Homo sapiens: one gene and its partner. The protein of the gene in region 2 interacts with the protein of the main gene of each other region in a pairwise test. Each region holds a gene or a part of one and is shown on either strand. Other genes may lie near its edges.

Evidence for each region.
Region 1: the proteins of SLC25A37 (region 2) and PNMA3 interact in binary tests that used the Homo sapiens proteins (3 or more experiments, as listed by UniProt).

The regions. Positions count from the first base shown.
Region 1 is NC_000023.11:153,049,569-153,061,758, reverse strand, and holds PNMA3 (paraneoplastic antigen Ma3), read right to left. Parts: upstream 5,290-12,190; 5' UTR 5,121-5,289; intron 4,810-5,120; 5' UTR 4,704-4,809; coding exon 3,312-4,703; 3' UTR 3,278-3,311; coding exon of another isoform or gene 3,215-3,277; 3' UTR 1,297-3,214; downstream 1-1,296.
Region 2 is NC_000008.11:23,530,132-23,542,514, reverse strand, and holds part of SLC25A37 (mitoferrin-1), read right to left. Parts: intron 5,682-12,383; exon of another isoform or gene 5,611-5,681; intron 1-5,610. UniProt on the Homo sapiens protein: Mitochondrial iron transporter that specifically mediates iron uptake in developing erythroid cells, thereby playing an essential role in heme biosynthesis.

The DNA of each region.
Region 1 (12,190 bases), on a different chromosome or scaffold from region 2:
AAGTTAAATATACCACTACCCTGTGGCCCAGCCATTCCATTCCTAGGTATTTACTCGGGAGAAAGGAAAACAAAAGTCCACAGAGATTCATACGAGGATGTTTCTATCAGCTTTAATCACACAATAACTGTAACACATATCTATTTTTAGATTAGGGACCTTAAAATAGATACTGCACTTGATCGTAGCCAAAAGGCCAAGAAGCCATGTGAACCTTAAAAATAGGAATGTGCCAGGGGTCAGAAATGGATGATTAGCTAGTAGGCCCAGCTCTAGGGCCATCAGCCTAGAGGCAACAAAAGTCTCACTGCTGTTTGGTGGCAAAGAAACTTCTACCTCTCTCTGCCTTCTTTCCAACCCTCTTGATCCCTTAAAGAAATAAAAAAAAAATCAATCACCCAACATTTGCACTCACACGAAAATTCACACACCCTCTCATAAACTGTCTCATACACACTAACACACATACTCACACACTCACCCATTCCACACATTCACGCATATGCACACACAAACTCATAAACACACTCTGAAACACACATTCACTCATGTGCACACTCAACAACACAAAGTCACCCACACATTCACTGTCATACACACATTCACACACCGTCTCACTCTCACATATTCACATACTTTTACTAACACACATATACATTAAACACATAAACATACATTTGACCACTAACACACATTCACTCACACACAAAAACTGATGCATACTCACACTCAAATACAAACACACATTAACATATTCACACACCATCTCACACACTCACATATTCACACATTCGCTGACACATGACACACACAAACTCTCCTACACTCACTCTCACACAATCACTAGTACGCATACTCACACATATTCACCATCTCACACACACTCACAGAGATGGGCCTGGTTTTGATGCTCCAGGTGTGGAAGCCCAATAGTGATACAAGGGATCCTGGGGCCACTGGTCCAGCCTGCTGTCCCTCACCCTTCCTTAAATATGTTATTCATTTCTGAGAAGCTCAACCAGTGCCCTGAGGACCCAACCAGCCACTGCCTGGGCCTACCAGTGTCCTGTCTACTGGGACTATCCAGCCTGCTCAGCTGGGTTTCTTTGCCTGGGTCCGTGGGCCGTGAACCCTAGCTCATGACCAACATGCGCAGATAGGGCATTCTAGAATGCCTTGCAGACCGAGCCCCAAGTATACACCAGTGTTAACAAAGCCACTGTGGCCCTCACTCCACCCCAACCCCATGCCCAGCCAACCTCATCCCCAGTTTCCCACAGCAGAGGCGAGGCCGGCTGGAACACTGAATGAAGTTTATTGAAGAGAAACACGTACTGAAAACGTTGAAGAGAAGGGAATCACAACACAGAGAGAAACTGCAAACGGCCACCACAGGACACAGGTCCCACACAGGTCCCGGGCCCCCTCCTCCTGAGGTTCCTGGCAAGACGCCTCATCTGCTCCTACTCCTGCTGCAGCCCCCGCTGCCAACTCCCTCCTTCCTGAGGGCCCCGGGGTCTGCCTCTTGCCAGGAAGGTAGACTCTGGCAGTGTCCACTGGCTTTAGGGAGTCCCCTCCCAAGCCCATCTGCTGGGGCAGGGCCCTGCCCTATGGCCCGCACAGGACAGTCACAGGACACTGGAAAACACAGCAGGGAACACCCTACCAGGTTAAGGAAACTGAGTCATGAGTAACAACAGGGGTGGAACACCAAAGCACAAAGCTCCTCGGGAGCCTCAGGCAGGGCAGCCCCGCTCCGTCCTGGGTCCAGTTCTTCCTCCCACAGTCACGGTCACCATCGTGGTCACAGGGTGAGCGTCCGCCTTGCCCTGGTGCTTCCTTCCTGTCATCTCCTGGGACTGTGCTGGGGGACTCCGGGGAGGAGCTGCTCAGAGAAGAACACACACAGCTCCACAAGAACAAGCAGCCACTGGCCTAGATCTACACAGGGAAAGCAGAGGTGGTGCTCATGACGCGGGACAGCAGTGAGCAGAGCCTGGGCTCACAGGAAGCTCACAGCATGTGCCTTGGGCCCAGAGGCGGCCACCTGGGTGGGTGCATAGCACACTACTTTGCACAGGAACAACGGCTAGCGGTGGGTGGGCGTCTGCTGGACGCGTGGGTCACTACAGGGGCCTACACAGGTGAGGATGAGCTTCCTGGAACAGGGGGCAGCCTGTCCCGGGAACAGTGAGTTGGGGGACCCCTCTTGGGAGACCCAGGCATCTGGCACCCTTGAGAGGGCCTCTTTCCCCCTGTCATCTCCCAGCTCAGGGCTGGGGGAGTTTGGGACAGACGTCTTCAGGTGCCTCCACCCAGGCCATGGCTGGCTGCTTAGGGGATGCCTCCAGGCTGGATTCCCCAAGGTGGCAGGGTTGTGGCTGGCCTTGGAATTGGCATTGGCATCTGTTGAGTTGCTTTGGCCATGGCAGCCCCAGGTTCTCCTTGCTTGATCTCTCCAGGAGTCTGGTGGCCCTGTACAGAAACAAGCAGAAGAAACAAAACCCTACCAAGTCCTCCCTTTTCCTCCTCCTTTGCAACAAAGACTTCCCTTCACAGCCACCCTGGTCCAAGTCAACTGTGAGGGCACTGGCCTGCCGGGTACCCAGTACCCCTGCTGGGGGTCTTCTCATCAATCTTTGGTCTCCTTGCCTGCACAACCTCTGGCTGGCACTGGGCTCCCGGGGCCTTAGGGTCTCCTGTCCTCACTGGCACAGGGCCTCCAGGGTGCTGCCTTCCTGGGGCTCCCCTAGTGCAGTGTAGATGATCCTGAAGACGGGATGGACCCTGTGGCCTCCCCTGCAGGGCTTTACCTCTGCCCCCCAGCTCTTCCTCACCAGCCCTGGCACCTGCTGGCAGGGGCAGGCCCCAGGTAGGCTCCTCCAGGTCCCATGTGGCCTGGGGGCCAGTGGGCATGTTCAGCTCAAAGTCCACAGGGTGGGTATTTAGGGGTGGTTGGATGAGCAGGACAGAACCCCCAGCCGTACCTTCTTCAGCTTCTGCTTCTTTGGGGTCCCCATCTGAGGCCCAGGCACCCCATGTGCTGGATGCAGTGGCTCCCTGCTTTCCTCTCCAGCACCTCTTCGGGGACCTGGACCTGACCCCCACTGAGCCTGTTGCCAGGTGGTCTTGGTTGCTGAAGTCCCTTCCAGCTGGCCAAGGGTGAGAAGGCTTGGCCTTGGTCTGGCTGCCCTGTCCCTCTGCCCCACTCAACTCATCTGCTGTTTGTCTGGGCTTCTCTTTCCCCTCCTTCCAATATCTCTTTTGTCTCCTTGGCCTGTGGTAGGAAATGTTGCCCTGTTCTCCCGAGCCTACTTGGCCTTGGACTTGGGATGGCTCTTGTCCCAAGCCCAGTTCCCGTTTCCCGACTCAACTGCAGCCTGTTTCTTCTGCTTTACCAAGAGCAGGTTGGAGGGGTTGATGCACTGTACCCTGATGTGGCCGTCTTCCCCACAGCTATAGCAGAATGTGTGGCGTTTCCGTTTTCTTGAGCCTCGAGAGCCAGCCCTTGCCACACCACCCCTTCGGTGTTGGCCTCTGCCCCTCCGGCGCCGGTAGCCCTGGGAAGGCCTCGCATCAAAACTGTTGCCAGAGGCAGGGAGAGGTACTGCCCCAACCCCAGTGATCCTGGCAGGTGGCCTTGGGGCTACTTCCAGCCCCTCCAGACTCTCCCTATCTGGACCTAAAGTGGCCTCCCATTCCTCCTCCTCACGCAGGAGCTTCACCAGGGCCAGGAAACCAGGAGGCTTCCTTCGCTGTTTCATCAGCTTAAGCTTATCTCGGAGTTTGTCAGGAAGGGTGGCCCCACTTAAGACTCGTTTCAGGCGAGTCTGATTCACGTTTCTACGTGATACCACATTGTTTTCTACAGCTCTTTGGAGCAGGGGTTCCAAACGTAACACAAAGCTAGATACTTTCTCTCCTGCCTCCTGATAGGCTTTACACAACTTCACCTGGGCAATTTTATGGCTCTCCACAGGTCCGAACACCTGCTGCAAGGCAGCCAGGCACTCCTCCACAGTTATGGAAGCATTGCTGGCCCGGAGCCCACTGACCACCTGGAGAGCAGGGCCCCGTAAGCATTCCATCAGCCTCCGCCTCTTTTCCCCCTCGGGCACCTGCCACATCTGTAGCATCTCAGTGGTGTGCTCAAGCCAGGCATCAAAGGCCAGTGCACCTGGGATGGATATGGTGTTCCCAGAAAACACTCTTAGTTCTCGGTACAACATTTGTTCTAGCAGAGGCTGCACTGCTGCCCCCAGAGTCTGGGCCCAGGTCCAGAACTCTGGTGATATAGTCACTCTTGGAGCCGAACAATTGGTGTCCGACCCGAGGACTCGGTTCATATCTGACACGGTCCGCCTCTCCTCCTCTAAGAAGCGGTTCAGTCTGTTGAGAAATTCCCCATCTGAGTTACGGGGTTTTACAATCACTTCCCAGGGCCCCCCCTTTCCTGGTATTTCCCTTGGGAGCAAAGCATAGTCGATATCTTGTGCCAGCTCCAGTAGAATCGCCTGGGCGTTCTCCTCCCTCCTAAACATCCTGCCAATCACCCTGTATCTGCCCAGGTGCCTGCAAGCCTCCTGGAGTGTCTCCTCAAACTCATCCTCGCCACAGTCCTCGGGGATCCCCAGGATGAGCATGCACCTCCGGGTGTTCAGGTGTTCCCCCCGACACCAGTCCTGTAACAAGGTCAACGGCATGTCCTCGAATCTCTGCGGATACTAATTTGGGGGGAGTGATCAGGGCGTGAGGCACATATCTGGATCAACTCCTAGGGTGATCGCAGAAGGCCCAGGTCTCCACAGCCTGTGAATGCGAGCAGGGCGAGAGCGAGGTTAATGCCCACCTCTCCGCACGCCCACATCCACGCCCACCCCCACCCCCACCCCCAGCCGCCCTCCTCCCCGGGCGGCGCCTCTGCAGCCAGGCCCCGCCCCTGCCCAGCCCCCCACCCCCACCCCCCGTGGGGTCTCTGCGGGCCTCAGCCCCCTCCCCGCGCTGCCCCAGGACCCTGGACCCCTGCCCTGCAGGCTGCTTCAGTTCTGATAGGGCGGACAGGCGAGGGGCGGCGGAGTCTCCCGGGGCCCAGCGTCTCCCTCCCCAGGTGGGTCTGTTACCTTCTCCCAGGGCAAGGTCCCTTCTGGTCGGGGTCCCCAGAGGGCTCTCCGGGGGCTATGCGCGGCGGCGGCGGCGGCGGCGGACGGGGGTCGGGCACCCCTGGCTCCCAGCGCGGACGTTCGCTCAGACTGTGGCTCTCCCTCGCTCGCGCAGCACGTGGGCCAGTGCGCCGGCGCCTGCTCGCCGCGGCTCTCTGCAGTGCGGACACGGGGCGGGGGCGCGGCGGCGGTGCAGCGCGGACCCCTCCGCGTCGTCCGGGAGACCGCAGGGCCATTGGCGCGGACGGGTCACGAGGTCGGGCTCTCGCCGCCGCCCCTGGGGGCCCCAGGTCCCCGGGTGACGTCACCTGCTCCTCTCCCCTAGCCCCCCCGCCACGGGGGCCCCCGGGCCCCCGGGCACACAAGCGCCCGCCCACCCCCATCCCCACTGCGGTGGCCAAAGGTCTGTGGCGGCCAGTCCCCGTGCCTTTGGCTCTCACCACAGCGGTTCCTGGTCCCGGCTCCTGCCCCTCCCGCACGTGCCACGGAGGTGCCAGCGGGGCGAGGGGTCTGCACCCCGGCGTGCCCACCAGAGGGCCAGGGAGTGGTCTGAGGTGCGCCAGGCAGCTCTGCATTATGGCCAGGGTCAGGGAGCCGGGTTCTGGGGCCTGTTCACCTGCTCTTGTCCTCCCCCTCCCCGTCCAGGACTGGTCCTCTGGCTGGCGAGGCCAGGGGCACCTGGTGCGGGTGCCATTCCGTGCAGGAGATGCCCCAGGCACTCATGCAGGTCACGCACACCACCCCAAGGAGGGTCAGCCATCTCCCCGCTGTCCATCCCGCTGCTGGGACCTGAGGCCCTCCGGCCAAAGCGCTTCGCTGCCCAGGTGCCAGTGGACAGGTTTACCGGGACCTTTCCGGTTTTGTGCGCTGCAAATCTAGTGACTTGGGAAACCACTTCCAGGACTTGGAGCCCAATCCCTTGGGCCTGCCCTTCCTTGGCAGCCGTGCGCCGTGGGTTCTATTGTATCCGTTTGATCCCAGGGCAGCAGCCAAATGAAGAAGGGAGTGACTGTCCCTCAGGCAGTGGGCCCAGGTGTTCTGTGGGTCCTGCCTGCTCTGCCAGCCGCATGCTCAACTCCTATTCACACAGCTTCAGCTCCTCTCCAAACACAACGAAAAGGGGCTTGTGGTTGATTTTCAGGCCAGGTTCACCCATCCAGCCAAGTCTGGGAGGCCACCTTGCAGTGAGTGGGGCACAAAACTGTCCACTGACTTCCTGCCCCACCCTGAGTTCTGCTCGTCAGCCTGGCACTTGTCAGGGACCAAGAAGAAATGGCCCCAAGGGCTTTTTCCTGGTCAGACAGAATTCCTGAAACATCTTTACAGGAGTTATTTCATTTGCTCCTCACCAGAACTCTGAAGCAGGTATTAACATTATCCTGATTTGACTCATGAGGCTCAGAGAGATTAAGAGACATTTTCAAGGTCACACACCGTATTGAAGGTAGAATTGAGACTGGATTCTAAATTAGTGCCCATCAGTCTTTGGGTAGAATTGGGACTATTTCTCCCCTGGTTGCTTCATGCCTATTAGAATTTATTTCTCTCATTTTTGTCCATTCACAGTCCCTTGCTTTGTCACTCCAAGGGCTCAACCAGCTTCAAACTGAACCTTCATCTGCCCAACTTGCAGGGGTGGAAACAGAGGTTCAGAGAAGGGACACTACTGGCCCAAGGTCACACAGTGAGTAAATGACAAAGCTTGAGATGTCAAGGGGAGATGCCAAGTATTCATGCCAAGGCAGAGGGGCGTGTCTGGAATGTCTCCGGAAAGAAGCCTGTGAAGTTCCCAGACAGACGCAGTGATCTGTGGATGTTCTGGGCATTGGGAAAAAAGGATTTGGAAACACTGGTATCAAGACAATAGATGTGAATATGTCCAATTTGAAAAGTTTTAGAACTCCTTTATATTGGAGTTAACCTTTGCCCTTGAAACCAGTGGAAATGTCTTAATTACTTTTGCTTCCCCATCTCCTTGCATGGTAGATAACACAGCAGCACCAAAGTTGGGGAACTGATGGATAAACATTATTACTTGTAAAGTGAAAAACATAATACAGCATGAAGGAAGCAACCTCCACCGGGGTGGCCTTGCCCTGGCTTAGACCAGTAGTGACTATCGGGGTCACAAAAGGGGCAGATTCATGGGCCCCACCTCTGCAATCTGATCTGCTGAGTCTGAAACAGGCCTGGGAATTTTTTAAAGAGTTTCTGGTAATTAAATACTTTATAAAATACATTCTGCAATATTTAACATACAAAACGTACTTAAAAAGTACATCCAGTACTCCTGAATGTAGTAACTGGATGAAGACATAAAACACTGCCAGTGAGGGTAAGCGCCTGCAGATTCCTTCCCTGTTGTCTCCCACTCTTGTCCTCCATGTGCATTTCTTCGTGCTTTTTCTGCAAATGACTATATCCCTAAAAAATTGTCTTTGTCTCTTTTACACTTGGCAGAAATGATATCATACTATTCATAGTCATCACTGTATTAACTAATTATTGTTTGTGAGAATCACCATTTTGATATAAGCAAATTTTATTCCTCAATTTTCACTTCTGTATAGTATTCCATTGTGTGTGTGTGTGTACCAAAATTTATCAATTTTCCCATTGACAGATATTTAAGTTGTTTCCCATTTTTACTATCAGAAACAATGCTGCTTTAAATATTCTTGGAGAGTTCCTCTAAGTTATGTACCTAGCCATGGCATTGCTGAATCAAAGACTATCTTTAGTATTCAGAGACATTGCCAAATTGTCTTCTGGGTTGCTGTACAAATTTATGTTTCCATCAAGCTCCATATCATCACTAACATTTCATATTGTGTGACTTAAATGTTGTTAATCCTGAGGAATGTCAATTGTTATTATGCTTTTATGTAGAATTTCTATGATTATGAATTAGATTTAATACCTTGGTTGGGGGGGCATTTTTTATTCCTCTTGATTGAAATTCCTATTTTTGTCTCAATTCTCAACTGGGGTGCTTCTCTTTTTTAATTCTTTCATAGGAGTTATTTATTTACTTTGGATATTTCTTCCCATTAAGTTACTATTCCTGCACAACCAGCTACCCAAAACATACTGGCTTAAAACAACCATTTTATTCTGCTCACAATTTTGTAAGTGAGAAATTGAGAGAAGGTTTAGCTGGGCAGTTCACTCATGGGATCTCTCATGTGGTTGCATTGAGATATGAGTTGAGAATCAAGTCTAAAGACTCAACAGGGCTGGGCACCCAAGATGGTTCATTCATATGGCTGGCATTGAGTCACACTTTTGGTACTTGCAGCCCAAAGCACGCTAATTTTTATAGAAGCTCAGATAACAATAGCTCCTCTGAATCATCATTATTGGACCAATTAAGTTTTTTATTTGGACTTTAAGAAATTTCTCTGGGAAAATACACAAATGGACAGAAATTACACCTCTTAATTTAAGACTGTTATGGGTTGAATTATGTCTCCCCATACCTCAATTCATATGGTGAAGTCCTAATCCTTAGCACCTCAGAATGTGACCTTATTTGAAAATAGGGTCATTGTAGATGTACTTAGTTAACATGAAATCAAGCTGGAGTGGTGTGGGCCCCTAATCCAATGTGACAAGTGTCCTTATAGCAAGGAAATTTGAACACAGAAACATGAAGATGCTCAGGGAGAACACCATGTGAAGATGAAGGCAGAGATTGGGGTGATGCTTCCACAAACCAGTGAATGCCAAAGATTGGCAGTAAAGCCCCAGAAGCTAGGAGAAAGGTCTCTGAGCAGATTCTCCCCCACCACTCTCAGAAGGAACCAACACTGACAATACTTTGATGGTCTTCTGGACTCCAGAAATGTGAGACATTCCATTTCTATTGCTTTAGCCACCTAGTGTGGTACTTTGGTACAGTCACTCTAGAAAACTAATAAAAAGATTAAACTGCAAATCTTCGAATGGTAAAAATGCTGAAAGGTTTCTGAAATGGAATCTGGACTAGATGGCATAACTATTTAATAATGAGGATACATGAGAGCCAGAGGAGAGCAAAGGAATTACTTATAAGATAAAAAAAATAAAAAAATAAAAAAAAGAATCTGGAAGTAAAGAGACAAGAACGACTCCCCAGAGTGGCCAAAGCCCGTGCACCACTGCATCCCTCCCCCAGAGCCTATGTCCCGCCACTATCACCACCATCCCCAAGAGAAAGGCTGAAGGGGATGCTAAAGGAGATAAATCCAACATGAAGGACAAACCACAGAAAAGATCCAAGAGGTTGTCTGCTAAACCTGCTTCTCCAAAGCCAGAGTCTAAGCCTAAAGAGGCCCCTGCAAAAAAGTGAGTGAAGGTACCCATAGGGAAAAGGGTAAATGCTAATGCTGGCAGGGAGGGGAATAACCCTGCAGAAAATGGAGATGACAAAACAGACCAGGCACAGAAAGCTGAAGGTCCTGGAGATGCCACGTGAAGTGTCTGCATTTTTGATAACTGTACTTCTGGTGACTGAAGAGTTTGAAATACTATTTTTTATCGAGTTTTATAAAAATTCATAATTTTGTTTTACTTTTTTTAAGCTATGCTGTTAGCACGCAGAGCACTTCATTGTTGTTTGGGGGGAAAGGGGCATAGGTCACTAATAGAATGTCTATGAAGCTGGATTGATGTGGGGAAAACACATTTCCCTTCTAGGTTTGAGAGACTTCCTATTGGTTCCCAAGAGGAGAGATTCCCTGACTTTGACACACATGGCCACCTTGGCACAAAAGCCTTGGTATGGAAAAACAAATTGTTTTTATGTCCTCTTCTCCCTTTCCACCTTTCATCATAGACTTAACTCACTCAAACCCAGACACCTGTTGGGACCTGAACCCAAATAATTGGTTACCAGTGTGTCAGGCAATCTGGACTTGCCTGTGATGCCACTGAGATGGTGCCCCTCAAAAGAGCAGCGGTTCTGTTTCTAGATTGTGGATCATCAGATAAATTCTGCCATTTTCATTTCACTTCCTGAAAGTCAGGGTCAACTCATGAAAGGTTGTTAAAACAACATGCTAAATGAGAAATGTCAACCTTCACTCTAAACTTTCCCTGTTCAGAGCATCAGATGAAGTCTTCATTGGGTTTTACAGTGGCTTTCTGATTTTTGGTAGTCCATTGAAGTAGGGAATTTGAAATGTTTTATACTGTGAATGACTGCCCATGTCCTGCCTGAAATACCATGATTGTTTCTGGAAAGTATCTTTAATAAAGCTAGATACAGTTTGGCTTGGGGAAAAAAAGAATCTTTCTTTTACAGGTTAGATTTAAGTAACAGTTGGTCACTGTCTGTTCCCTTTTCATTTGCCTCATTGTGCTCTAAATAAGAACTTTTACATTGTTCCTGACCAACAGAAGGCCAGGGCCCCCACAAGAGCAGGCCGTCCTTGATTGTAGGATGATGTAAAGTTACAATTACCAATTCTTTTTAATCATAAAATTCCCACACAAACAGATAGTGATTATGGGTCAAAGTTTTATTTAACTAATCAGTGAGGGAGGAGCAGAATGAAGAGCTGGTTCGAAAAGATTTGAAGGACTTATAGTTTTGGGGGAAAGAAATGATGAGGTAAATTGCTAAGTTAAATTCAAAACTGATTTACTCCTTGAGACAATAAGGCCATGGCACTTATTTCCCATTCAGGAAAAAAAAAATCACACCTTTGTTACTTTACAGAATTGTAAAACATTTGGGCTAAAATGAATTTTAGTCAATCAAAGTTAAATTTCTGGGAACAATCAAGTGAGTCCAGAATTAGAAAATTATCTAGCCCAATATTAAAAAGTCAGAGTCATCATTTTGCAGCATTTTAAATTTAAAAACTTTAGAGCTGTTTTAGGTTACCAGCAACACTGAATAGAAGGTAGAGAGTTCCCATGTACCTCCTCTACACTGCTAACACACAACCCCTGCCACTACTGACATCCTGCACCAGAGTGGTACATTTGTTACAACTGATGAAAATACATGGACAAAGCATTGTTGCTCACAGTCCATAGTTTAATTAGGATTCTGTATTAGTCTGTTCTCACACTTCTATGAAGAAATACCCGAGACTGGGTAATTTATAAAGAAAAGAGGCTTAATTGACTCACAGTTTCGTATGGCTAGGGAGGACTTGGTGGAAGGGGAAGCAAACACATCCTTCTTCACACAATGGCAGAAGAGAGAATGAGAGCCAAGTGAAGGGGGAAGCCCCTTACAAAACCATCAGATCTCATGAGAACTTACTATCACAAGAACAGTATGCGGGAAATTGCCCCCATGATTCAATCATCTCCACCTAGTCCCACCCTTGACACGTGGGGATTATTACAATTTAAGGTGAAATTTAAGTGAAGACACAGAGCCAAACCATATTATTCCACCCCTAGTACCTCCCAAATGTCATGTCCTCACATTTCAAAATACAATCATGCCCTTCCAACAGTCCCCCAAAGTCTTAATTCATTCCAGCATTAACCCAAAAGTCCAAGTTCAAAGTCTCATCTGAGACAAGGCAAGTCTCTTTCGCCTATGAGCCTATAAAATCAAAAGCAATTTAGTTACTTCCTAGATACAATGGGGATATAGGCATTAGGAAAACACACCTGCTCAAAATGGGAGAAATTGGCCAAAGCAAAGGGTCTACAGGCCCCACACAAGTCCAGAAATCTAATAGAGCAGTCATTAAACCTTAAAGTTCCAAAATGATCTCCTTTGCCTCCATGTCTCACATCTAGGTCACACTGATGCAAGAGGTGGGCTCACATGGCCTTGGGCAGCTCTGCCCCTGCAGCTTTTCAGGGTACAGCCCCCTTCCCAGCTGCTTTCACAGGCCGGTGTTGAGTATCTGTGGCTTTTCCTGGTGCCATGGTGAAAGCTTTCATTGGATCTACCATTCTGGGGTCTGGAGGATGGTAGCCCTCTTCTCACAGCTCCACTAGGCAGTGCCCCAGTGGGAACTCTGTGTTGGGGCTCCCACCCAACCCCACATTTCCCTTCTGCACTACCTGAGCAGAGGTTC
Region 2 (12,383 bases):
TCAGCTACTCTGGGAAGCTGAGGCAGGAGAATCGCTTGAACCCAGGAGGTGGAGGTTGCAGTAAGCCGAGATCGCGCCACTTCGCTCCAGCCTACAGGACAAGAGTGAAACTCCATCTCAAAAAAAAAAAAAAAAAAGTAGGAGTACACTCTAAAGTAATGACAAAAAGTATAGCATAGTAAATACATAAACCAGTAGCAGAGTCTTTCATTATTATTTGCAAGCATTACCTACTAATTGTGTGTGCTATACTTTTACATGACTGGCAGCATAGTAGGTTTACACCAGCATCATCCCAAACACGGGCGAAATGCAATGCGTTGTGATGCCCCTAGGTAATAGGAATTTTTCAGCTCCACTATAATCTATGGGATCACTGTCTCATCACATATGGAGTCCATAGTTGACCGAAACATCGTTATGTGGTGCTGACTGTAATTCAGTCATTCAATGAAGGGCAGGGGATGAAGCTACATTTTCACAAATACCATGTGAATCTTCCTTGGGAGCCACATTACTGTGAATCAGGCTAACGCAAGCCAACGTTTAGCAAACGAACCACAGAGGCGGGTGACTAAGGAAAGCAGCTTTCTTGATTCTTCAGTTAAAGACACACCCTGGGTTTACCCCTTCCACCCTCATATGTATATACACGCACTGGCAGCATCTTCTTGCCTTTGAAAAGATGTCCCCACCTCTGGTCTGACTCCCTGGATCTGATCATCAGCCGGCCACTCAGCAACTTTAATCCAGGCTCCCAACAGCCCTAGGACACCCGTGATCCACAGGAGGGCAGAGAAAGTGGGGAGGGGAGCACTGCGTATCAAGGACGTGCCGTGAGTCAGAGGCACTGCCCGCGGGTCCCGCTGCCCGGCAGGTCTGGCTGGCCAGCTTCCTGCAGGCTGCAAACCTCTCTCTCCATGTTCTGCTTCTAAAGCCAGGCCTTAGGCAATGCAAGGCGCCCGCAAAACCCTCAAGATGGGCACCGTGGGGACCCTGAGACAAAGGCACTTGTGTGCGTTACCTCCTTCTCCTCTTAAGCAAGTGAGGAAAACAGTGACGGGAAAGGCCAAACTGGGGAAGAGCCCAGGCGTCTGCAAACACACACAGTCATTCTTCCGGGATCATTAGTCACCTTCCTGCTCCTGGGGGACCCCTCCTCACAGCGTCCCCAGACTCATCTGCCTGGTGCTCAAAGGGACAGACTTTCTTGGAAAATAAGAGTAAGGATATAAAATCCCACAGACGTCCTCAAACTAACAGCCCTGGGTACACCTCCCTGAAGGTGGGCTCATCCGGTCCTACCCTGCTGGTTTCTGCTACACGCAGCCACTACTATCCCCTGTCTACATTACCACGAAATGAGCATGCTGTGAGCAGCACTGGCTCTTCCTCATTAGCCAGCCAAATGGGCGGCAGCAGACAGCCACCCTGTCTTGGCTCAACAGATGGGAGACACTGTAAGGAGAGAGGTTAAGTGCCCAAGGCCAGGCAGCTGCACTGAGTCCTAGTGCTGGAATGAGAGCCTGGATTTTCCATTCCAATGAGCTAACCTTACCCCTCCCACAGGATCCCAGTGTGATAATAAATACCATGACCTAGCACCTGCACAGAGAGCTTTATACTTTTAAAGCGGTGTTCCCTGCAAGCCTGCCTGTATTTTCTCACTACATGCGTAAGCGGACCTGCCAGGGGAGGCAGGATGGGCACCGTTACCCCTCCTTATTTCAGATAAGAAAACTGCAGCCTTAGTGGACCACGGAACTATGATGTAGTGCTCTTCCCAGTAAGTGACTTATATACATATACTATGATCTGGAAAGGAATCTTCACGACTAGTCCGAATTCAAAACACTATATTGAGTGCAACTTCGACTCACTGCTGAAATGAGAAGGTGTCACAGCAACTGCAATTTGTTTCAGAGAGAGAAGCCAGACGCAGCCAAAAATATCCTGTGGCAATAACCATATGTCATCATCCTTCTTCCTTGCTTGCTGGAGTACTTGCCCAAAGAACTCCTAACTATACGTTAGAGCCCTGCATTCTGTGCCACACTTTCTGGGTGCCATGATTTCCTGGAGTTACTCCCTCGACTCAACTCTGGTTCCTCCATCCCAACAATGCAGCTGGGCCCCATCATCAATCTCAGCCCTTTCTCATATTCTAGAATCCAGCTCAAGGGCTCTGCTGCCATTAACATCTGAGTCTGCATCCAACATCCTACTGGCTTGCTCCAGCCTAATTCCCTTCCTCTCTTCTCTCGCTTTCAGCTCTGGAGCAGAAAAAGGCCCGAGTTCTAGGGCATGTAATTTTTCTGAAGTTCAGTTTTCTCAAATATGAAATGAGAAACAACACCTGCCTTTTCTCACCTTCAAAGGAGAGCTAAGAGGATCAAATGACCAAATAAAAGCTAACAATACAAAAATAATATAAAATTAACAATTGCACCAGCAATATATAAACATACCCAGGCATTGAAGTAATACTTTTAGAAATAACAAGAGGAGCTGATATTAATGGGGCATTTGCCATGTGCCTTAACATTCTAGGTGTATCATCTCAATTAATTCTCACAGCAACACTGAAATGGGTAAAGTTATTAGCCCCATTTTATAGATGAGAAAAATAAGGCAAAGAGAGGTTTCAGGAACTTGACCAGGTGCCACTCCAGGCAGTCTGGCTGCAGAGGTTGTGCTGTTAACCTAAACAGCTCTAATAATCAAGCACATTGCCTCTGATACAATCTGTCATTAGCTTTGCATGTTAAGGTTTGCAAGAGCCATTCACAAATCTATCTCACCTAAGCTTCCCAACAGCCCTGTCAAAAAGGTAAAGTAGATGACACTAGTCTAGATTCACAAGGAGAAAACTAGCCCAGAGAAATGATTAGCCCAAGGTTTCCAAGCTGGTTAATGGCAGGACCAGGACTTAAATTCACGGGGCCCACACCCCGCCCCAGTTTGGTGACCTTTCTAGGGCCTCAACACCAGCATAAGTCTGACACACAAACACTCCTCCGGGTCCCCCACCCACAGCAGTGTCTCAAATGCACCCTTTCTGGTCATGCCAGGGAATAAACACTGTTGGCTAAATATCAGCCAGGGTCTCTCTTTCACCAGTGACAGCCATCACAGACCACGTGGCCAGCCAGAACTCAAGGTCCCAGAGCCTTCCAAGTGGCTCTCTGGATGGATCTAATGGATCCAGAGGCTCGGTGGACCCGGAAGAAGTTCCCTCAGTGACACAAGGCTGCAGTCCCTCAACTTGACCCACACGGCCAGACGTTTCCTAGACCTGTTATGCAACCCTTGCTTCAAGCAAGCTGCTGCTGGGATTTCTCCCTATTTCAACATGTTTTGTTTTCTCTTCAGAGAGAAAGCATGAATGTGAAACCATAACACCTCTTAGTACCCGACAACGGCCCTTCCTGACTGTCTGGGGTTACGAGGAGGGTGGGGGATGTTTTCAAGAGCACCTTCTGTGAGCCAACTTGAGCCTCCAGAATGACTAACCACCGTGGGAGGGAGGGTGAGGATGGTGGGGAGGGAACACAACTGAGGACCACTGTCTCTCGCAGGAGAAAGAACAAATTCCAGAGTGCCCAGCAAAGAAACTAGAATGACGCTACCCTGTAGGCTCTAGACCTGCAAGACGGCAGCAGCTTGAGCAGTTCAGAGTCCATACACGCCAGACCTTGTTCTTCCAGCCCATCTGAAAGTCCGTCAAGACAGGCGACTCTTGTCTTGAAAGGGAGCTGGTTCTGTCGCCTTAGCTCAGGGTCTAATTATAGGAAGCACGCTTACTTTGAGAACGGGGACCAGGCATTCTTATTTTTGTAGCCCAGTGTCTAGCACAGTGCCTAGCCAAGAGGGCACTCAGGAAACGTGGAATGACATGAGTGGCCAAATGAAGACATTGCCTCATCGGGGTATAGCTGCTGCTTGCTGGGTTCTACACACACACACAAACACACACACACACACACACACACGACAAACAACGGAGCCAAGAAAGTCTTCTTTGTGGCCATAACATGCATGGATTCAAAACCAATGCAAAACAAAAATCAAAACTGGAATTTGTTTAATGGCAAGTTTTTTTTTCTGGTTTTTTTTTTTTTTTTTTTTTTTTTTGAGATGAAGTCTCGCTCTGTTGTCCGGGCTGGAGTGCAATGGCGCGATCTCGGCTCACTGCAACCTCCGCCTCCCAGGTTCAAGTGATTCTCCTTCCTCAGCCTCCCAAGTAGCTGGGATTACAGGCACCCACCACCACGCCCAGCTAATTTTTGTATTTTTAGTAGAGACGGGGTTTTGCCATGTTGGCCAGGCTGGTCTCAAACTCCTGACCTCAGGTGATCTGCCCGCCTCGGCCTCCCAAAGTGCTGGGATTATAGGTGTGAGCCACCACGCCCAGCCAATAGCAAGTTTTAAAGCTTTTCATAACTTTTTTTTTTTTCATCTTTTTTAAAAAGCCGTGCCTTCCTTCATTCAACCAATATTCACAGAATACTTCTTTGTCATTCTGTGGATGAGTCCAAGAAAGGCTGGAGGAGGAAAGAGTTTCAGTCTGTGTGCCTGCCATGCAAAGGTCGGGCTTTACATGCAAGGCAAACAGAAGTGCTGAGGGATTATCAGGTGGGGAGACACACAGGTGTGAACTACAGAAAGACGTGGCTACTCCCTGTCTTTCTGCAGGCTTGCAGGCTCTGCGGCAGGCACCACGAAGAATGGGCTGGATCTTCCACTCCAATCAGCTAAACTTACCTCTCCCGCAGGATCCCAGTGTGACAAAAAACACCATGACCTAGCACCTGCACTGAGCTTTACACTTTGAAAACTGTGTTCCCTGCAAACCTGCCTGTATTTTCCAACTAGATGCACTAAAACGACCTGCAAGGGAGGCAGAATCGGCACTGCTACTCTTCTCTATTTCCGATGAGAAAACTGCAGCCCACCAGGAAGCTGCTGGGCTTGGAGGCTGAAGAGCAGGACCAGCCATGGCTGACGTGCAGAATGAACTGCAGAAGCTCCTCCATCAAATACTTACTGAGCACCTACTGTGTTTCTGGCAATGGGAATACAGTGGTGAACAGAAGAGCATACATCCCTGCCCACTTGGGGCCTACATTCTGATGAGGGAAGAGAGACCATAAACAATACAAATAATACTATAAATATAAGTAAAATATGTAAACAATATAAATAAACGATGGTGTGTGTTACGAAGTAACAACTGCTGGGGAGAAAAACAAAGCAGCAATGGGCAATAGGGAAATGTGAGGCAGGGGAGAGTAATCTCATTTTTTTTTTTTTTTTTTTGAGACAGGGTCTTGCTCTGTTGCCCAGGCTGGAGTGCGGTGGTCCAATCATAGCTCACTACAGCCTCGACCTCCCAGGCTCAAGCAATTCCCCCACCTCAGCCTCCCAAGAAGCTGAGACCACTGGCGCATACCACTATACCAAGCTAATGTTTTTATTTTTTGTACCTATGGGGTCTCGCTATGTTGCCCAGGCTGGTCTCCAACTCCTGGCCTCAAGTGATCCTCCCACCTCGGCCTCTCAAGGTATTGGGATTACAGGCGTGAGCCACTGAGCTCGGCCTAAACTCACTTTTAACTTGGGCAGTCTGGGATCTCAAGGAAGAGGAGACATCCAGGTCCCTGAACCAAGGCAGTAAGTAGCTGTGGGGAGGGAGAGAAGGAAACACATTCAAGAAGTACTACAGATACAGCCACAGGCAGGCCTTCCCTGCATACAGGGCAGCAGTGGGAGAAAAGCTGATGACCATCCCAGGGTGCAGAAGGAGGCAGAAGGGCAGGCCCGAGGGGAAGCCAGGACCACCATTCTGGCCACACTGAGTCTGAGGAGGCTCCGAGGCAACTGGAGATTCAGCTCCAGAAAGTCTGGGCCCAAGATAGTGATCTGGGAGCCATCAGGTCCCAGGAGGAAACTGAGGCATGTGTGCTGGGGAAAATGAGGTGGAAGGGCACATTCCTGAGGAGAAGCCATGCCCAAAGAGGAAAACTGAGGATCGCAGGGCCAACCCCCTCTCGGAGGTGCCCCTGGCAGGAACAGAGGCAGCAGGGTGGGCCAGGAAGATGATGGGTAGCCAGAAGTCTCTGTGAGGCTGCGGCTGGGCAGTGCAAAAGCCAGGAAGCAGGGGTGGCAGTGAGGAAGTAGAGACCAGTGTCAATAGTTCTTTCAGAACATGTGTTGTTTTAAGGAGGAAAAAAAGGGGCAACAGTTTGTTTATGGGAAGAAACATTGGGGGTGCATGTGAGGTCAAGGTGAGAAGTCTGGGGTTTATTTAAGACAGGATGGGCTTGGATCTGTAGAAACACTTTTGAGAAAAACTCAATGGAGCAGGAAGCCTAAAGATCCTGGAACCGAGTCACTCAAGAGTGAGGGGACAAAAATGACATCACCATCACCATTTATTGACAACGTACGCACCACGCACTGTGGCAAGAACTTTACATATGTTGCCTCATTTAATTCTTACAACAACCCTATAAAATAGCTCTTGGTATTTGATATGGTTTGGCTGCGTCCCCACTCAAATCTCATCTTGAATAGTGGCTCCCATAATTCCCACGTGTTATGGGAGGGACCCAGTGGGAGGTAATTGAATCATGGGGGCAGTTTCCCCCACACTGTTCTCATGGTAGTGAATAAGTCTCACGAGATCTGATGATTTTATATGGGGAAAACCCCTTTCACTGGGTTCTGTCCTCTTTCTTGTCTGTTACCATGTAAGATGTGCCTTTTGCCTTCTGCCATGATTGTGAGGCCTTCCCAGCCACGTGGAACTGTGGGTCCATTAAACCTCTTTCTGTATAAATTACGCAGTCTCAGGTATGTCTTTATCAGCAGCTTGAAAACAGACTAATACAGTATTCATATCCCCACTTTGCAGAGAAGGAACCTGAGCTTAGAGAGGTTAGGTAATGTGCCCAGGTGTGCAGCCAGTATTCAAATCCTGGTGTCAAGGTGGTTTGTATACATCTCCCTTCTCTGCCACATTGATATACCTTAAAGGAATGAAGACACCTGTTCCCTTATAGTGGGGGTAGAAGGCAAGAGAGTTTGGAAGGACAGTGACAGGAAGATGGGTTTGATTGAGGTCCTGGTTTCCCTATGACATGGAAGCAAGATGCCAGGCTGAGGCTGACAACAATAGGGTGGGGAGCTAAGGGGCAACAGGACCCTCGTGAAGGATGCAAGCAGCTGCCCAGACATGTGGAGCTGAGGCCAGGGAGCATGCGCATTGGAGGCAGTGTGAATGTCCCCTGAAGGGCTTCGCTGCCCAAGGGACAGATGGGCTGTCCAGGACCCAGGTGGGGCAAGCCAGGGTTGGAAGAACCAAAGGCAGAGAAACTAAAGGCCCCAGCAGCTGCAGCAGTCAATCTTGGGGTCCAGGCTATAATAATCTGGATTTAAGATCTCAGGAAGATTCTGAGTTAGGTCAAGGGACCATGGAGGTGAAGGCCATTGACTCAGAGGTGTAAGGAATGGAGTGATTTGGACTTGAGTCGGGTGGGGACGAAGAGGGGCCATCCTCAGGGTGAGGACGGGATCTGTGGAGGTGAAGTCTGTGCATCAGATGCCAGAGTCCTCAGGGAATGAGAGAAAGTGATGGCAATCATGCTGATGATGATGAAGATAAAGATGAGAGCAGACATCAGAGAGTATCAACTGTTCTGTGCGTGTACCAGGCATGTGAAGTGCAGCGAGGGCTTAACCCTCCTCACAACCACCCTGGGAGATCGGTACCATCTCTTCTTCTTTTTACAGATAGGGAAATAGCACAGAAAGGTTAAGAAACTTGCCCAAGGTCACACCTAACTGGGAAATGGGACCCGGTCCAGGGATTTGGACTCAAGGGTCCATGCTCCCAACCCTTAGCAAGAGGAGCTGGATTTCCATCAGGAGGGGGAAGTGAAAGAAACATTCGGTAAAGAGGGGAAGATGTAAGGGAGCTTGTTAACAAGGAACTTCCACAAGGCCCACTGGAAAAATGAGAGAAGTGGGAAAGAAGCAATGGAAAGCTGGGTCAGGAAAGAGAAAGCAGGAAGAAAATCAGGATCCCCATTTGACAAGTAAGGACATGAAGAAGCTAAGTGTCCTGCCCAACCAGTAAGTCAAAGACTGGAATTTGAACCCCAAGATAGTTCTCTAAGGGTGGGAAATCCATCTCAGTAGGAACTTGAGGGAAGGTTGAGGGAACTTTAGGGAAGGTTTCCAGTTCAACAAAAAGAAAGAGGCTGGGCATGGTGGTTCATGCCTGTAATCCCAGCACTTTGGAAGGCCAAGGTGGGAGGATCGCTTGAGCCCAGGAGTTCAAGACCAGTCTGGGCAACAAATTGAGGCCCCCATCTCTACAAAAAAATACAAAAAAATTAGCCAGGCATGGTGGCATGTGCCTGTAGTCCCAGCTACTCAGGAGTCTGAGCTGGGAGGATCACTCAAGCCCTGGGAGGTCAAGGCTGCAGTGAGCTGCAATCACACCACTACTCTCCAACCTGGGTGACAGACCGAGACCCTGTCTCAAAAAAACAAAAAAAAAGAGAGAGAGAGGGAGAAAAAAAAGAGAAAGAGATTGGATATACCCCTCCTATGACAAACATCAGACACAACATTCAAGGTGGGCATGGGAGTGGCAAAGCCATGCATCCTGGCATGGTCCAGCCAACACCATGATCACAGGGGTATGTCTGTGGCCAGCATGGATGGGACATGACAGCCGGTATTTCGGATTAAAAACAAAAACAAAAACACAAATTCTTTGACAAGAAAAGGTTCCGTACTAGTGGAGACAGGAAAAGAGCCAAAAAGCTCTGGGGTTCAAGAAAGATGCTGAAGGCTTCCACACCAGCAGGTGAGTTCATCCGATGAGTCAGAAGAAGGAAACCCCTGAAGTCAGAGAGAGTCAGAAGCCCAAGACTAAAAAACAGAGAAAGTGGAACTGATTCCCCAAGACTGGTCACTGCTGCAAGACAGGACAAAACTCATCTCTAATGAGATGGCCACATGCAGCTGAAACGTGCCCAAGTGGAAGCCAGGAAAAGGTTTGGGAAGCACATTCCTCCCTTCCAGGTGACACGCACATCCCCCACCCCAGGTGCACACCCCTGTATAGTTTAAGCAAAGCAGCTGATTAAATCCTCCCATTCAACCCCAAATACCTCTCCCTACTAAAAAGCTGAGGCCCCCTTTGCTGTTCACAGTACTCTTGGGCACGCGCCTCCAAACCACGCTCCAGCCTGCCCCTCCCCAATTTAGGGCAGAGAAAAGTGGATGAGGTTCTCACACTCCTCAGGGTAGGCCTGAGGGGTACAGGCCATGGCTGCCTGGGGGTTCATGAAACAAGGAACAGGACTGCAGCTCACAAATACCCCTTTTTTGATTCCTCGTTCCAAATTCGCCTTTTAAGAAAATCACCTCTCATCAAAGGAGAGAAAAGAAGGGAGCAGGGGGATGTGAGGGAGAGGAGACAAGAAGGGAGAGAGAAAAATCATTATAGTTTTGTCCCAGGAACTAGAGCAATTTGGGATTTCACGCCCTTCTGAAGCTGAATGGCATGGACCGAACTGCACTTTGTTTGGAAAGCAATGAAGTGGGTGGGAGGGGACTCTGGCAGCTGCCTGCACTGCCCCCCAGCACCCTTCCTACCAGTCTGCCTGCAGCCAGGAGAAAACTCAGAAGAGGAGAAGTCAGAAGTTGAGGTAATGCTCTGCTGAGCTGGGCAGGCTGGCTGTGCACACCATAAGGTCAGCCAGGAGGCTCCTAGAGGGAACGCTCCGTGGTGCACCAACCTGGGAAGGAGGGCTCATCCTAGGAGAGTCACAGGCAGGGTTTCCCCCAACAGCAAAGCAAAAGAAGGGTTGTGAAAGGGTCAGCGGAAGTCCCCCGGCTTCAAATCTTTCCTGTTTCCTTCTGCCCCTGCTTTCCCCAGGCGGGACTCGGCATGGTCTCCGAGTGGTGTGCCTAATCTGGTTGGAATTTCCTCCTCCACCCACCTGGCATGCTCCTCAAGTCTTGAGCTCTCCTGATCAGACCAGGGGTTCTTGTATCCACCCCAAGTGCCCCTTGCCACTCTGGAACACCAGAAAGAGGCTCATGGAAAACCTGCCACCAGACCCCGCCTAGACAGGAGTAAGTCATTGCCACCATTTGGTGAGAGCCCTGCAGAGACCCTATACTCCCTCCCTGGGTATCACTTTGCTGCTCACTGTCATCGCAGGGGCAGCCAAAGGTCCCAGTAGACTGGCCCTTTATGGATGAATGAGTGCTCACATCCCACCATGGGAGGACCAAGGGAAAGAAGAAGACACAGGAAGCAGCAGGAAAGTTGCCAAAGGTCTTCCAAATACCCATTTCATAATCTCAGTGTTGCCTGCTGGGGCTCCAGAGATATTTTCTCAGGTTCAGTGGTTTTCATATTTGTTTGACCACAACTCCCAGCCAGAAGTACATTGTACACGTCTGTAAAATGCACTCAGAGACACACACACAACCCAAACAGAATTTCAACATTTCTCCCACTGCATGCCAGGCACACCCGTATTTTTACACTCTCACTAATAACTTCTTTTATTTATTTATTTATTTTTAAATGCAGAGTCCACTAATGGGTCATGGCCCACCATGTAAAAAACACTAGTTATTAAAGTGACACTGGGGATGTGAGGTGTGACCTCACGAAGAAGCAAATTTAATATTATAATGGGAAGCATCCACCAGGCCGACTTTGCACTTAGAACTGCAAAATAAGTAGCATCAGGTTCAGGGTTGAAAGTGACCAGCACAGAGCTCCACAGTCCACATTACCTAGGATAGAAAAAAGCCAGCCGATTCAACATTCTTATTTGTCATTACAAGATCAAAGTTAAAAATGGCGCCTTTCAAAACTGGAGAAAGCTTTCTCTCTTTCAAGATCCGATTTACATAGATTTGTTTTCAGCTGTAATAATTCTTTTGATATTTCAAGTAACATAAAAGAGGACGATGGGTGTTGTGTGTTCAGAGAAACGAGGCATGGGTTAAAAATGTGGAGAGGGACTGAGCAGGTCCACTGTCCCCACTTTATAGTGACAAAACTAAGGCACAGAACAGTGCCCGAGGCATGAAGCAAGTGAGAGCAGGGCTTGAAGCCCAACCCGGGTTTCTTGACTCAGTTACTCCCGGTCTTCGCCATCATCCAAAATACTTAAGAGGAACACAGGTGTGGTCTCCCCCAAGCCTTTCCATGATGGAGGATGCACCCCTGACTCCTCATGCTTGGCAGACAACTGTGCTGATGTTGGCAGACCTTGGCACTCAGTGGCAGCCTCAAAACCAACCCTGCACACTTCAGCATGGAAGGGCCCCTAAGGGTCAGTTATAATCCCAGAACCTAGAAGACTTCACTGATTAGCTAACCCACGCCTTGTTTTACAGACTTGTCTAGGAAAACCAGACCGGCTCCTTCTACCATTCACACCATGTTAACCTGTCCACAGGTGAAAACTGCTATGGAAAGTAATACTAAGTATACAGGTGACATCTGAACCAAAACATATCAACATGTATGGGGCAGGGAGAAACTAAACACAGATCACACAATTTAAACGTGTGAGAAACGCCTCTTGAGAGTGTCAAAGGGTGCTCAGAAGGCACAACTAATTATTTCTAATCCTAAAAATAAGCTAAAATGATGCTCTAAAGTGAACTCACTGTGGGGTTCCCGAATAGAACATTCATCTCAAGACACCAGTAGGACTAGGGCCTGCTCAGATAACACCTCCCTGCTCCTAACTTTCCCCAGACTCTGCCCAGGGCAGTTGAGACAACAGCTTCAATCATGGAGAATTTTATTACATTTGAGGGATTCTTTCCCATACAAATGCCACCTGGTATCAGTCCAGTGTCTTTCCTGGAGATGAGAACCATTCCTCTAACTCCCCACTGGGACACTGGAGGGACATATGGGTGATGGCTCAGGCTTAGGTCCAGCAGCACCTTGGAAGCCCATGTCTTTCCTCACTGGACTTCTGCCTGTCCAGACACTGACTGCTGGCTCCAAGCGAGCTCCCCGGAGCCGGGAAAACCCTCTGAGTTATACTTTCTGGCCTTCATACCTGCTCATGCAGGACCAGCATCAGCAACAAGATAAAGCTGCTGGGGGTGCCTCTGTGGGACCTGCCTTGCAAAATAATTGCCACCTAGAGAGGCCTCCGAATCCTCCAAAGCACACTGCAGCTGCAGCCAGAGGATAGGAGGTGGTGTAGGAGCCTGGGCAAGGTAATCGGTTCGCCTCTCTGCGCCTCAGTTTCTTCATCTGTTAACCCCCAGGGCTGTTGCATGAATTAGGCGAGTTATGCCTATAAAAGTGCAACGTGTAA